Linked DNA regions of Homo sapiens. The protein of the gene in region 3 purifies or fractionates together with the protein of the main gene of each other region. This does not show direct contact. Each region holds a gene or a part of one and is shown on either strand. Other genes may lie near its edges.

Region 1 (3,944 bases), on a different chromosome or scaffold from region 3:
AGCTGCACACAGGAGCCGAGCAACCCCCGGACTGCTGGGTAGGCGATTTCGGAGATGTAGACCTGCCAGCAATCAGATGAGGATTTATGGCTGGGCGCAGTGGCTCATGCCTGCAATCCCAGCACTCTGGGAGGCCGAGGCGGGCAGATCACCAGAGGTTGGGAGTTTGAGACTGGCCTGACCAACAGGGAGAAACCCCATCTCTACTAAAAATACAAAATTAGCTGGGCCTAGTGGCACACATCTGTAATCCCAGCTACTCAGGAGGTTGAGGGAGGAGAATCACTTGAACCCTGGAGGTGGAGGTTGCGGTGAGCCAAGATCCCACCATTGCACTCCAGCCTGGGCAACAAGAGCGAAACTCCGAAATTTTTAAATAAAAATTAAAAAAAAAAAAAAAAAGATGAGGCTTTACTCAGGCTCCAAGAGTTCTTAAAATGGAAAGGTCTCAGCCATTCAGAGCTGAGGAAAGTCCTTGCAGGGGGTTACGGCAGGCCCTGAAGCCCCTTAGTGGAACCTGCCTAGGTGAGCAGAGCCATCCCCAGGTCCCCACCACTGAAAGATCTGTGGCAGGTGTTTAAAGGGGATTAAGGGTAACGGAGAGGGCTGCATATGATGACGAGAGGCGGTGGGCACAGAGCTTCTCAAGCCTTCGTTTAATGTGCACAGACACCCTGGATAAATCATAGATTCCGATGCAGTAGGTCTGGACAGGCGAAAGATTCCACCTTGTTAACCAGCTCCACGTGACGCCCACCCAGGATCCTAGCCCAGGGCCCACGCTTTGAGTGGTGGCCTTGGACTAGAAGCACGAACTCTCTGCCTCGGTCACTACCAGTGGCTGCCACTAGCTCCCTCCTGGGCCCACAGGCCACCAGGCCCTCACCCATGCATCTAAGGTTATTCCATAGCTTAGGCCCCTAACACAGGTGTGTTTCTGCCCAGTTAAAAAAACCAAAGACATAAAAGGCCCAGCTTCTTCCCCACCCTCTTCTGGTCCAGCTGCTGCTGCCGGTTAGCAAACGTTGGTGAAATGAGCACCCAGGGAGGGGCCTGAGTGGCTGCTTTCAACCTCACTTGGGGGAGATATTGTCCAAGCCCATGGCTGGGGGCAGTTCATGGGTCACCAAGCTGTCAGGATCCAGTCCTCTACAAGCCATGCCAGGGGCTGTCTATCCAAAGTCCCACTGAATCCTGACCACTACCTCAGGGGCTAATGCCATAATCCCTGTTTTCCAGAGAAGGAAACTGAGGCCCAGGGAGGCACTCTGCTCAGGTTAGTGGCAGAACCAGGATTTGACCCAGATGTTCGGGGCTCCCAAGTGGGCAGCCTGGGTCAGGAGGGGGAAAGGGGGAAGATGGGGAAGCCAGAGGGGCTGGCCTGTGAGAAGGGAAGGGGAACACAGAGGCCAGCAGCCTTTGCCCCAAGAGAAATCAGGACAGGAACTTCCTGCTAATTGCAGTCATTGACCCGAAGCCAGGGATGAAAACCAAAATGTAGGGAGTGGGCTCCTGTGGATCATCCGCAGGTTTGCAGAGCAAAAGAGGGGCACGGCTAAGTGGGACAACCCTGGGTTCCTGCAACTGCTTCCCCTCTGACTAGCTGTGGACCTCGCCTGGGCAAAGGACTTCACCTTTCCGAGACTGCATGTCATGACCTCAGTGTAAAATGGAGAGAACAGTAGGATCCTTCCCAGGGTCGACGGGAGGGACCGCGAGATAACGCAGGGACTTCAAGCCTGGCACCCAGAAGGTCCCGCCAGGGGGAGCCGCGCCCCCAGGCCTGGGGAGCGGTTTGTCCCACTCCCCCTCGGTCTCAGGCCGCGAGACAGGACACTCGAGAGACGGGACACTCACCGGGGCCACTAGGGAGGCAACACCGCAGGCCAGGCCGGTGAGGAGGCGGCCCCCCAGCAGCATCCACACGTCCTGGGCCGCGGTGATGACGGCAAAGCCGGCCACGAAGGGCACGGAGCACAGCAAGAGGCTCAGCTTGCGCCCGGCGCGGTCCACCAGCCAGCCGCCCAGCACTCCCCCCGCCGCGGCACCCAGGGTCACGACAGCCTGGAGGCGGGCGGCTGCTGAGGAGGGGGCGCCGAAGCCGCAGCCCATCCTCCCCCTCCACCCACTCCCCGCGGGCTCAGAGGTAAAAGAGCCGGGGCCCCGCGCCCGTCCCGAGGGGAGGGGTAGGGGGCTGAGGGGCCCGGTGCTCGTCCCGAGGGGAGGGGTGGGGGCTGAGGGGCTCGATGCCCGTCCCGAGGGAAGGGATGGGGGGCAGAGAGGCCCAATGCCTGTCTCGTGGGGAAAGGTGGTGGCGGCGGGGCCCGATGCCTGTCCCGAGGGGAAGGGTGGGGGGCGGAGGGTCCCGATGCCCGTCCCGAGAGGAGGGCGTGGGGTCCCAGGGCGGGAGGAGCGAGCCCGGGGCCTCACCCCGAACCAGGAGGCGGCGGCGTCGTCCAGGCGCGGGGCCGGGGGCGCGGCGCGCTGCAGGCTAGGGATGGCCGGGGAGCTGTAGCCGAGCGCGAAGCCGAAGCTGAGTGGGCCCAGGGCAGCGGCGAAGGCGGCGAGGAAGACGCGGCGGCCGCGGGGCGCGCTGGGGGGACAGGGCCGAGGGTGAGCGGAGCGGACGCGGAGGGGCGGGAGGGCGAGGCCGCATCCGGGCCCGGGTTCCCCGGAGCTCACCTGCCGCCAGGAGGCCCCAGAAGCGGCTGGGTTTCCTCTGGGTCCTCGGGCGTCATGTCGGCGGCCAACGCCGATCGGCCAGCTCTGGCGCCTGAACCGCCACGGGCCCTGCGAGTGCGGCCCGCACCGGCCTCTCGCAGCCAATGGGCGGCGGGGGGTGGGGGACGGTGCTGGGCGGGATCGGAACCGCAGAGCAGGAGCAGCCAATAGGAACGCAAGGCGGGGCTAGCGAATCAGCTAGGACCCGCCCTTCACATTAAAGCAGACCAATGGGAGCATAGAACCGATTAGCGAAGCGCGCTGGAACCGCCCCTAGGGCGGAGCGGTCCAAGGTACAGGTGGGGCGGAGTTTCCGTCTGGGAGAACAACCACCCAATTGGAGTGTAGTGCGAGCCCATAGACGGGGCCAGAGAGCTGCCTCAGAACTGAGCTGGCCAATGAGGTTGGAGGGAGGAGTTTTTTTTCTGGCACCTCCTCTCAATCTGGCTTCAACCAATGAGGGTAGAGGCGGGGCGAAGGCGAAGCACGTGGGCCTCAGCCCGAGACTTCCCGCCCCCAACTCCGAGAAGCTGCACCTGTCCTGCCCGGTCGGGTCTGCAGTTCCTGCTCCGCTTTAATCGCTGCCCTGGGGACTGTATTGGAGGCGTCTGACCTATGCCTGGGCCCAGCTCTGCAGGGGAGAGAGCCTCTAAGCAGACCGTCCTGGGCCGCCTCTCTCTCCTCTCGGAGGGCGAGACTGGTCAGACGCTCCCGCTGGGCTGCTGGCGGCGGAGGCGTGGCCCTGTGCACCGAAACCCACTTTCATGCTTCCCAGATTGCTGAAGGCTCGGGTCTCCAGGTGCTGAGGACCAGTGGTAGGTGGGGTCCCCCACGCCGTATGTGTGACAGATCTGGGCTCCACTCCCCCTCTTAAGTGTCACTCACTTCACAGGGAGTCCTGACTCTTGAATCTTCATCTACCTGCCTCCATATTTTGAGTTCCCTGTGGATTTTAATGCCACCTTCTCCCGTGTGCACCCAAGTCGAATGATGAGGCACTGTTGGATCTCACCAGTTGTACCCGATTCATACCCAACACTCTGGGTGCAGGCAGCTGTGGTGGAATGCTGGTGTAATTCTGGAAAGAGCCAGGGCATGGGAGTAAGAGGCTTGGCTTGTAATCCCTCTCTGGGCCTTGTGTTTCCTCATCTCTAAGTGGGGATGACCATTATCTTCCAGGAGAGTTGTGAAGCAAGGTAATGTATATAAGACATGTGAAGCAC
Region 2 (3,500 bases), on a different chromosome or scaffold from region 3:
GTAGTGGGGAATTGTGGGATGGGGAGCACTATTCCCTTAGAGCACAACCATGTGATAAGCCAAGTGTGGTTGAGGAAAGAGTATGGCGTAGGATCCCAGCAATTTTACTAGGTAGGTTAATGTGGATAAGTTAAGTTCAGTTTTCTCATCCTGGGTCATCTCACTATTTCCTTATAGTATGAGCTAAATGTGATTGCCCTACCCCGAGCCCCATAGGCTGTCAACCTAATTTCTATCTGAATCACCCATCCCTCCTACCTGGCTAACTCTTAGATGGAGGAAATGAGACACAAGTAGGTCGCTGTGCTATGATCTAGATTTTTTTATATATGCAAAACCAACATCAGAGTGCTGAGGTAAGGGCTTTTCTAAGAAGGTTGTGTGTAGATGACACTGATCTACTTGAGAATGAAATCAGTCATCAGCTCAGTGTTATGAGGATCAAGTTCTATCCTTACCATGGGAAGGCAGCCGGGGCATCTCTCCTGGTCTTGGGTCAGGACATTTTGACTCCAGTATTGGTTGGTAGTAGTCAAGGTGGCTGAGGGGAGCACAATGCCCTGAGATATTGTATCATAGGGAAATTTGGAAGAGAGGACAGGGGATGGTACCTCTAGGCACTTCAACTGCAGGGGAATAATTGTGCCTTATTGGTTTCATTCTAACCCTGGTGACTTTTTGGATGAGATCCAATAATTTTCTGAATTCTGTTCCCAGTGAATACTCTTAAACCTCTTGTTCACTTCTTCAGCATCCTGTGTTTACCCTGATGGCAGTGCTAGTCACACTAAACTGAAATTATCTGAATAATGTCTCTCACATTAGAAACCTGTGGCTCTTCTATTTCTTTCCACAGCCTAGTAGAGGGGATCAAGACATGTTGAATTAGACTGAATTAAGCAAGGTCCCAGGATATGTTTATCTACTATTTTTGCAAAGGTGGCCCCATGCAGAAAGCCAGAGTTGTGAGAGCAAGTCCGAGCCTGTGGAGAGAGGTCCCCTGCTTACCACAGAGAGTGTGATAAGAATCTATTTATTGCCAGACACCTACCTCTTCTTCTCAACTGTAGTATTACCACCATGATGAGAATCATGATGACACCCCCTAACAGCCCAGCATACACTGCCCATGGTTTTGTTTCTGGAAAAAAAAAGAAGTCAAAGAGCAATCTCAAAAGTATTCTGAGCTTAAAAACATCTTACATGAAAGTGGGATAATGGAGCCTCATGTTCTATTTCTGCATTCTCTCCCAAGGGAGACGTTTGTTTTCATGGTTTTAGAGGTCAGCTTTAGACCACTGAAAATTTTTGTATCTGTTTTCTTATTCTAATTTCTCTCACTATACTTTCACATTCTTAATTTCATGAAGATTTTTCTATCCAAATGCTTTATTTTTAACTCAACTACCACATGTCTAACATTAAATTATCTTCATCTCTCCTAAGTCAATCTCTCTGCCCAGTTTCTCCATCTTAAGATTGCTAATGTGTCCTGTATCCATTTTGGGTAAAGAGAATATAATGGTTCCATGTGCCGTCCCTGTGAATTCACGCTATTCTCATGAGACACTGGGAGGAAGAAAGATCTACTTATCTTTTTTAAAAATAAACATAATAGTGCTATTGTTGTCCTTTCATGCAAATAACTGGGTTGAACCCAGCAGACCTGAACTGAAAGGAAAGTATTTAGTCTTTCCTCTAAATCATCTTCATGTTTAAAATTAGCCCGAGAACTAATCATCAAGGCTCAAAATCAGAGAGAAAACTTTTATTGTTTTCTCTCCTTTACCCACTTTATCAAATCCTTTTGAACTAGGAGCAACACTTTGACAAACAGTGAATGAGAATTATCACCCCCAGTAAACAAGACATGTAGCTCAATAAGATTATAATGAACAATTATTGAGCACTTGCAATGGGCCACATATTTTTAGTGCATCATGTGTACTAACATATTTAATCCTCACAATAATCTTACAAGGTAGGTACACTCATTATTCTCATTTTATGGAGAAGGAAAACAGCCTGGAGAACCTCAAGAACTAGAGCTTGGTTTAGTAGTAGAAATGTGGCTGAATACTAAAGACAGACTTCTTGGAGAGTTAGAGAGACTTATGGGCTTGGAAAAAGTTATACCGGGGTAATGAACAGTGGGGACCGAGCTGAAGCCCTAGGGTTCTAAGTAGAATATTCGCACTAAGGTTCTAAATAGAGTAACACCAGATGTTAACATTAATGTGTAAGGGAAACTTATAAGGATGATTGTGGAATAAGCCTGCTTGTTGTTGAACCTGTGAGGAATTTGTGGGGCAGAAATTGAAAGAAAAATAGTCGGGTTCCAAAGGAAAGAATCATGGTGGACACAATCAGATGTTTACAGAGTTGACCAAAGATACAGACAGTCTCAATGAATTCATAAAATGCAGCCTACAAGATCCAAAGGGGCCTCCAGCCTGATAGCTGGCAAGAAGTTGCCTTCTGGATTTGAAAAGATTCTTTTTCTCCTTAGGCCTTTCACACATCAAGTTAGCCCAAGGAATCTCACTGAACTGACTTTGCAAACACCTTGGTTATAGGTTCTATCCCCTAAATTAAATGTTTTAATTTTGCCAGATACCAACTTCAACAGTCTTATGCTCTGATTAAAAAAAAAAGTTAGGAGGCAGGCAGAGAGTTCTGAATTTGTATAAAGCATGACATTTTGAATCATTGCTGATGCTGGAGGAAGGAGCAGCTCCACTCTGAGTGACTTATGGTCACTGAGAACCCTCTGTGCAGGAGTGTGTGTGTGTGTGTGTGTGTGTGTGTGTATGTGTGTATGTGTGTGTTTGAGACAGATTGATTCATTCAAGGTTTATGATATCGACACTAGGAACCACTGGAGAAATCACTCTAATACTAGGATAAGAAGCAAAGCCAGTAGCCTGAACTTTGTGTTTCGTCAGCCTATGGAACTGATCCAGCAAACCATTATAGTAGCACTTACTATTTTGACTAGTTCCTCTTTCTTCTTCTATCATAGATACTTTGGGAACTTCCAATACAACAACTGATTTGAGAAGAAACACCCCCACCATTTATATCATTTTAAAAGATAATATTTCTTTCCAATTTCACTTGAGATTAAAAAAATAAAACCAACAGACAAAGTAGTACCTCTGAACTGGAAAATAAAAGACAAAACTGCACCAGTAATGCCTGGTGAGTCAGCCTCCTCTCCCTCGCGCCCGACGCCGGTTGCTCTGCTGCCCACCAACTCACAGAAACTAACGATGACTGGGTGCAGCACCAAGGCTTCAGGACATGACAACGCCGGCCCTCTCTATCTTTTCTAGGGTCTCTAGAGGATGAAAGCAATCTGCTACCTTTGTCCTATGACAAGCTTCTGCCAGTCCATCTAGATCTGAGAGACAAGTTGGCCATGGTCCTGAAAGATATTTCATAAACTCTAATTTTTTTCCTCATCTTTGGATACAAATATGAATCATAGACCTTTTTAA
Region 3 (3,105 bases):
GAGCTTTCTCTGTTTGATATTGATACCGATACTTTTTAAATGCCTTTGAATATATCACTGACTTCCATCTCCAATTATTTTTGGCTTGGTTCCTGGTTCATGTGTTCTGTCTCAGAAATACCAAAAGGCATTGAGCTCAGTTTTACACTGGTTGTTCTCACTAGAGTTTTCAAGTCAGGACTTGGAGATCAGCCAAAGTCACGGTCCCAAAGTAGACCACAAATTGAAGGTCATCTTTTCTTAATTTCCCAAGCTGGGATAGTAGGAGTTTAAAATAGCCACTAAGACTTATTAGGTTCTTTGAACAACTTGTGGCCAGTGGGACTTGAAGTTGAAAGAAAGATCTAACATCATAGACTTTCCCTTGAGAAGACACAGCTCAGGTATGGTTTAAAAGTATGTGAGAATCATATGATAGCTCTACTTTGAATTTGGGGGGGAAATCTCTATGCCATTTTCCATAATGACTGTACTAATTTACATTCTCACAAACAGTATACAAGAGGTTTTCTCCATGCCCTTGTCAATACTTGTTATCTTTTGTCTTTTGATAGTAGCCATTCTAACAAATGTGAGGTGATATCTCATTTTGGTTTTAATTTGCATTTCCCTGATGATTAGTGGTGACAAACATTTTTTTCATATACCTGTTGGCCATTTGTATCTTCTTTTGAGAAAAGTCTGTTCAGATTCTCTTCCCATTTTTAATCAGGTTATTTCTTTTCTTGCTGTTGAGTTTCTTATACATTTTGGATATTAACTGTGCCTAAGATATAAAGTTTGCAAATATTTTTTCCCATTCTGTATGTTTTCTCTTCACTCTTTCAACTGTTTCCTTTGCTGTGCAGAAGCTTTTTAGTTGGATACAGTCCCACTTATCTAGTTTTGCTGTTGTTTAGCTTTGTGTTTTTGGGGTCATATCCAAAGAAATCATTGCCCAGACCAATGTCAAGAAGTATTTCCTTTATGTTTTCTTCTAGTAGTTTTTTTTTTTTTTTAATAGAGATGAGGTCACACTATGGTGCCCAGGATGGTCTTGAACTCCCTGGGATCAAGTGATCTTCCCACCTCAGCCTCCCAAAGTGCTGTAATTACAGGTGTGAGCCACCATGCCAGGCCTCTTTTGGCAGTTTTATAATTTCAGGTCTATGTTTAAGTCTTCAATCCATTTTAAGTTGATTTTTTTATATGGTGTAAGATTCAGTTTCATTCTTCTTCATGTGGATATACTGTTTTCCCAATACCATGTATTGAAAAGACTGGGGTTGTAATCCACCACTAATCCCTTGTAAAATCCCTGCCTCTCTAAAGGTATCTTCGCTCATTATTCAAACATCTCATTTGCATGAGAACTGGGATCCTTTTAGCTTCCTGAGTCAGTACATTTGGGGATGATTCTCTCTTTATTTACAGATTATAGAAGCCTATACAAGTATACAAGTGCACAATTACATCCACACATGCATGCACATACATGCACAAGCACATGTGCAACCCACATTTTCTCTAGACACATAATCCCCTAAAACAAATTAGAAATCAAACATACAACTTTCTAGGCTTAGGGGCCTCATGGGCTTTATGAAGTATCGTTTCCTCATTGCTCTAAAGCACTGAGGGATCAAAGTTTGATCCCTGGACCAGCAGCATCAGCATCATCTGGAAATTTGTTAGAAATGCTCATTCTTGGGCCCCACCTCATACCTCAGTCAGAAACTCTGGAGGTGGAACCGAGAAACCTGGGTTTTAATGAGCTCTCTAGAAGAATCTGCTGCCAACCCAATCTTGAGAGCTGCTGGTCTAAAGAAAGCATTGCAATATCATTTTCTGAGGAATAGATAGTAAATCCTCAAAATGAGCCTCAATTATAATGGACAATTCAGAATAAATCCCCTTGTATCCATCCTCCCCTTTGCACCCTAGACTTCCACTCTGCTTTCCCCTTCTACCAAAGAGTAAATGTACTTTTGTCTCTTTTTAGGTCTAGACAAACTGAAAGGCAATAAATCCTATGTGAACATGGACCTCTCTCCGGTGGTAGAGTGCATGGACCACGCTCTAACAAGTCTCTTCCCTAAGACTCATTATGCCGCTGGAAAAGATGCCAAAATTTTCTGGATACCTCTGTCTCACATGCCAGCAGCTTTGCAAGACTTTTTATTGTTGAAACAGAAAGCAGAGCTGGCTAATCCCAAGGCAGTGTGACTCAGCTAACCACAAATGTCTCCTCCAGGCTATGAAATTGGCCGATTTCAAGAACACATCTCCTTTTCAACCCCATTCCTTATCTGCTCCAACCTGGACTCATTTAGATCGTGCTTATTTGGATTGCAAAAGGGAGTCCCACCATCGCTGGTGGTATCCCAGGGTCCCTGCTCAAGTTTTCTTTGAAAAGGAGGGCTGGAATGGTACATCACATAGGCAAGTCCTGCCCTGTATTTAGGCTTTGCCTGCTTGGTGTGATGTAAGGGAAATTGAAAGACTTGCCCATTCAAAATGATCTTTACCGTGGCCTGCCCCATGCTTATGGTCCCCAGCATTTACAGTAACTTGTGAATGTTAAGTATCATCTCTTATCTAAATATTAAAAGATAAGTCAAACATTTTCATGAGTGGATAGACATGTTCTGTTACCTTGCTGAGGATGACTCTGAAGGACCAAAGCTCAGTTCTGATAAGCTTTGAAAAGGACAGGAAAAGGGAGGGTGATCAAGCATTGTGTGACACGGGTATAAGCTAAAGGCAGCAGTAAAACACTAGATAGAACTGCAAACAGAAGGAAAGAAAAAGATAGGAAAAGGAATAAGAGGACTGCAACAAAAGAATATATACCTAAATATATATATATGAAGAGAGACTCCCCAACACTCAGACAAGCCTTCCTAGAGGGAGCTATGGAGGTGAACATCCTATTCAAGCCCCTAAGAACATTGATGCACACAGTTTTCTGGTGGAAAGATGTAATGACATAGTAACTAATCATTCCAAAAGAAGAATAATGTTACATTTGGTTGGTTTATTCTGATGATTGTAAAAGTAACAAGACCCAGACCATGTGGCACAACTTACACCTGAGATGGCTGGAAATCTTGCATTTGAAGGGTC
Region 4 (3,500 bases), on a different chromosome or scaffold from region 3:
CTGGCATTAGGATTTATACTCAAATCTTTCTGATGCCACAAAGGAGGCCACTTTCCATCAATTTCTGGCGAGGCCCTGAGCCAAGTGCTTCCTTTGCATTACTTCACCAAATCCTCATACAACAAATAATAGCATCATCATAATACTACCACTATCCCATCTTACAGGCAAGAAAACATCCGCTGAGCCTCTACCTGGACCACACCCGGGCCAAGCCCTGTACTTGGATCCTGTTTGCCTCACGTGACAACCGGGAAGATGGGTGCTCAGCTAACCCTTGGTTTACGGAGGAGCAAACTGAGGCGAAGTCACTGGTTCAACCACACACAACCGAACGCACATGACTGAATAAGCAATTCCCCTCCCACGCATTACATGGGAAAACAAAAAGCATTTGTAAAGTGCTTGCGGACACATTTTAGCGATTAGTACTATTATGATGAACATTTCGGTACTTGGCAATTACCCCATAAAGTCAGTGCTGCTGCCCCTATTCTCCGGAAGAGCACAATGACGTTCACAGAGTCAGTGGCAGAGACAAGGAACTGTGGCTCTCAATCCTCTGCCACATGTTGGTCTCCTGGGACCACGGCTGGGCCCCTTCACACCTTGAAGCTCCCCTGCCTGTCTCCAGCCTCTCTCTGGTGCCCAGGAGCCCCTGCAGACCTGGGGTCTTCATAGGGCTGGCTGGAATTCCTGCCCCATGGATTCCTAGCTGTGGGCCCTAAGGGGTCTCTGGGCATCCCCCAGCCAGCTACAAAAAGGTGGAAAGGTGAAGGAGCACCAGGGACCTGGGTTCAAATCCCAGCTCTGCCCCTCACTTGCTGTGTGACTTGGGCACATTCTTTTTTTTTTTTTTTTTTTTTTGAGATAGAGTCTCACTCTGTCACCCAGGCTAGAGTGCAATGGTTCCATCTTGGCTCACTGCAACCTCCACCTCCCAGGATCAAATGATTCTCCTGTCTCAGCCTCCTGAGTAGCTGGATTACAGGCATGCACCACCAGGCCCGGCTAACTTTTTTTGTATTTTTAGTAGAAACGGGGTTTTGCCATGTTGGCCAGGCTGGTCTCGAACTCCTGACCTCAGGTGATCCACCTGTCTTGGCGTCCCAAAGTGCTTGGATTACAGGTATGAGCCACTGCGCCTGGCCTGACTTGGGCACATTCTTAATGTCTCTGGGCCCTGGTTTCTGTAATCCGGAAAATGGGTGATGGTGAAGAAGAGATAAGACTGTGTGCAGGTCTTATGAGCAATAAACACCTCATAAATCTTAGTGACTGCAGTGGGTTGAACGGTGTCCTATCCAAAGTTCATGCCCACCTGGAACCTCAGAATGTGACCTTGTTTGGAAATAGGATCTTTGCAGATGGAATTAGCTAAGGATTTTGAGATGAAATCATCTTGGGTCTAGGTTGGGCCCTAAATCCAATGACCAATGTCTTTAGAAGCAGAGGAGAGGACACCGAGAGACACACAGGAAGGAGTGAGGTGAAGATGAAAGCAGAGATGGGTGTGACGCAGCCACAAGGTGAGGAAGAGCAAGGGTTGCTGGCCACTGCCCGTAGCTAGGGAGACAAGGGACAGGCTCTTCCTCAGCCTCTCCAGGAAAAGCCAACCCTGCTGGCTCCTGACTCTAGACTTCTGGCTTCCAGAAGTGGGAGACAATACACGTCTGTTGTTTGAAGCCACCTAGCCTGTGGTCATTTGTTATGGCAGCCACAGAAAACAAACACAACGGGCTGTCCCTGCAGTTGCTCTCCTTGCTACTTCCTGAGACTTGCAGTGTTTCTGACCCTTCACCCCAAGGGGCAGTGGGCAGGAGAAGCTGCCCTCACCAAGGACACTGGGGGGCAGGATCACTGACCCCTCTCACAAGGGGAGAGCTTGGGACCAGAGGGCTTACACAGCTTTTCCAAGGTCACTCGCCAGTGATGAGCCGGCCTGGGACCCAGCTCTCCTGACCCTCAGACCAACACACTCTCCCCCATACCCAGGGACCTCTGTTTCTTTAGGAACCTGAGCTGTGGCCCCTGCTCGGGCCTGGTCACTTGCCCTCCTGGTCCTGCCAGCCGTGGTCTCTGGCCACATATCTGGAACTCTCTGACCCTGCAGAGATTTCCTAGACTGTGAATGACACTTCTAAGGCTTTTACCGTCACTCCCGCTTCCCCCTGCCTCCCGCCGCCTCCATCCAGACTGTCAAGTGAAGACCGGGGTGAAGCCGAAGCCACACTGCCCAGCAGGAGGTCCCAGGAGTTTTCCATAGCATAACCCATTTTTTAAACGGTTTTTTTTTTTTTTTGAGACAGGGTCTCGCTCTGTCATCCAGGCTGGAGTGCAGTGGCACAATCACGGCTCACTGCAGCCTTGACCTCCCGGACTCAAGCGATCCTCCCACCTCAGCCTCCTGCATAGCTGGGACGACAGGAGTATGCCACCACACCCTGCTAATTTTTAAATTTTTTGTAGAGATGGGGTCTTGGAGAGTGCCCTTGGAGCATGGCTCCCAGCTGTCTGCTGAGAAGATGGCCTTGTTTTGGATTTGAGGGTTCATCGGTCCTCAGGAGGGCCTGATTTAGCTGTGCAGGGTGAAGCCAGGGGCTAGGGGTTGGTAGGGGACTGGTGGGGAGAGGAAATGAGTTTCAGTCTCATTCAGTCACCCACTAGGCTGGAGACCTCAGTTTCCCCACGTGTGACAGGTACAGGCAGAACAGCATGGTGTCTAGGCCACCCCCAGCTCTGAGCGCCTATGTGCTCCACCAAGCCCACTCTTAAGCACCTCAGCTCCCCAGGGTGCGGAGTGAAATGGGTGAAAACCCAGGGGTACCTGTGGAAATGTAGCCCCTGGGACCTCCTGATTCATCAAGGTAGGGCCCAGAAATCTGCCCCCATCAGGTGATCTTTAGGTTAATTAATGCATTAATGGGTTTCCTGACCCATACCTGTGGCTGGGCAGGGGGAAGGCAGAGGAGGGCAGTGGGACAGCAGGCGGATGGGCCAGTGTTTCAGGCTCTGCACATAGCATAAGCCACAGGCAGCTTTTCTGACCTCCGATCTGCAAACTAGAGATTTCTTTCCTTTTTTCCCTTTCTGATCTCAGAGTTGGCCAGTTGCAGCAGCAAGGTGCTCACCTGCTCCGGCTCCTGATCCTGATGCCAATCACACCTTCGTGCACAGCCCTCTACAGTGTCCAGGGCTCTCTGGCAGCTGTGGCATAAAACAGGGCAGAGATAGGCCTGCCTGGCCACAGATGAGAAGATTGAGGGCAGAGAGAGGAAGTGACTTGGCCAAGATCACACAGCTGGTCAGGAGCAGGGCTGGGCCCAGGGCTCTCATACTTTCCACCCACAGTCAAACACCTGGGGAAAACCAGGGGCCAACACAGGCCTCTGCTGCTTCTTGTCTGGGGCCTGAGAGCACTTGCAAGAAGCCCAGGTCTCTACAGAACACGGTGTGACCTTGGACAAGTCCCTGTGCCTGGCTGGGCCACAGTTTCCTTT

What was found.
Region 1: the proteins of DHRS9 (region 3) and SLC2A8 purify together in Homo sapiens (affinity purification with mass spectrometry; 3 studies listed by BioGRID and IntAct, with this or other methods). This does not show direct contact.
Region 2: the proteins of DHRS9 (region 3) and SLAMF1 purify together in Homo sapiens (affinity purification with mass spectrometry; one large-scale study listed by BioGRID and IntAct). This does not show direct contact.
Region 4: the proteins of DHRS9 (region 3) and ATP2B2 purify together in Homo sapiens (affinity purification with mass spectrometry; 2 studies listed by BioGRID and IntAct, with this or other methods). This does not show direct contact.

Annotation. Positions count from the first base shown.
Region 1 is NC_000009.12:127,396,025-127,399,968, reverse strand, and holds the start of SLC2A8 (solute carrier family 2, facilitated glucose transporter member 8), read right to left. Parts: upstream 2,801-3,944; 5' UTR 2,739-2,800; coding exon 2,683-2,738; intron 2,594-2,682; coding exon 2,431-2,593; coding exon of another isoform or gene 2,065-2,430; coding exon 1,858-2,064; intron 1,798-1,857; exon of another isoform or gene 1,656-1,797; coding exon of another isoform or gene 1,635-1,655; intron 63-1,634; coding exon 1-62.
Region 2 is NC_000001.11:160,623,045-160,626,544, forward strand, and holds part of SLAMF1 (signaling lymphocytic activation molecule isoform b precursor), read right to left. Parts: intron 1,142-3,500; coding exon 1,052-1,141; intron 542-1,051; coding exon of another isoform or gene 459-541; intron 1-458.
Region 3 is NC_000002.12:169,093,563-169,096,667, forward strand, and holds the end of DHRS9 (dehydrogenase/reductase SDR family member 9), read left to right. Parts: intron 1-1,981; coding exon 1,982-2,205; 3' UTR 2,206-2,605; downstream 2,606-3,105. UniProt on the Homo sapiens protein: 3-alpha-hydroxysteroid dehydrogenase that converts 3-alpha-tetrahydroprogesterone (allopregnanolone) to dihydroxyprogesterone and 3-alpha-androstanediol to dihydroxyprogesterone. Also plays a role in the biosynthesis of retinoic acid from retinaldehyde.
Region 4 is NC_000003.12:10,499,087-10,502,586, forward strand, and holds part of ATP2B2 (plasma membrane calcium-transporting ATPase 2), read right to left. Parts: intron 1-3,500. UniProt on the Homo sapiens protein: ATP-driven Ca(2+) ion pump involved in the maintenance of basal intracellular Ca(2+) levels in specialized cells of cerebellar circuit and vestibular and cochlear systems.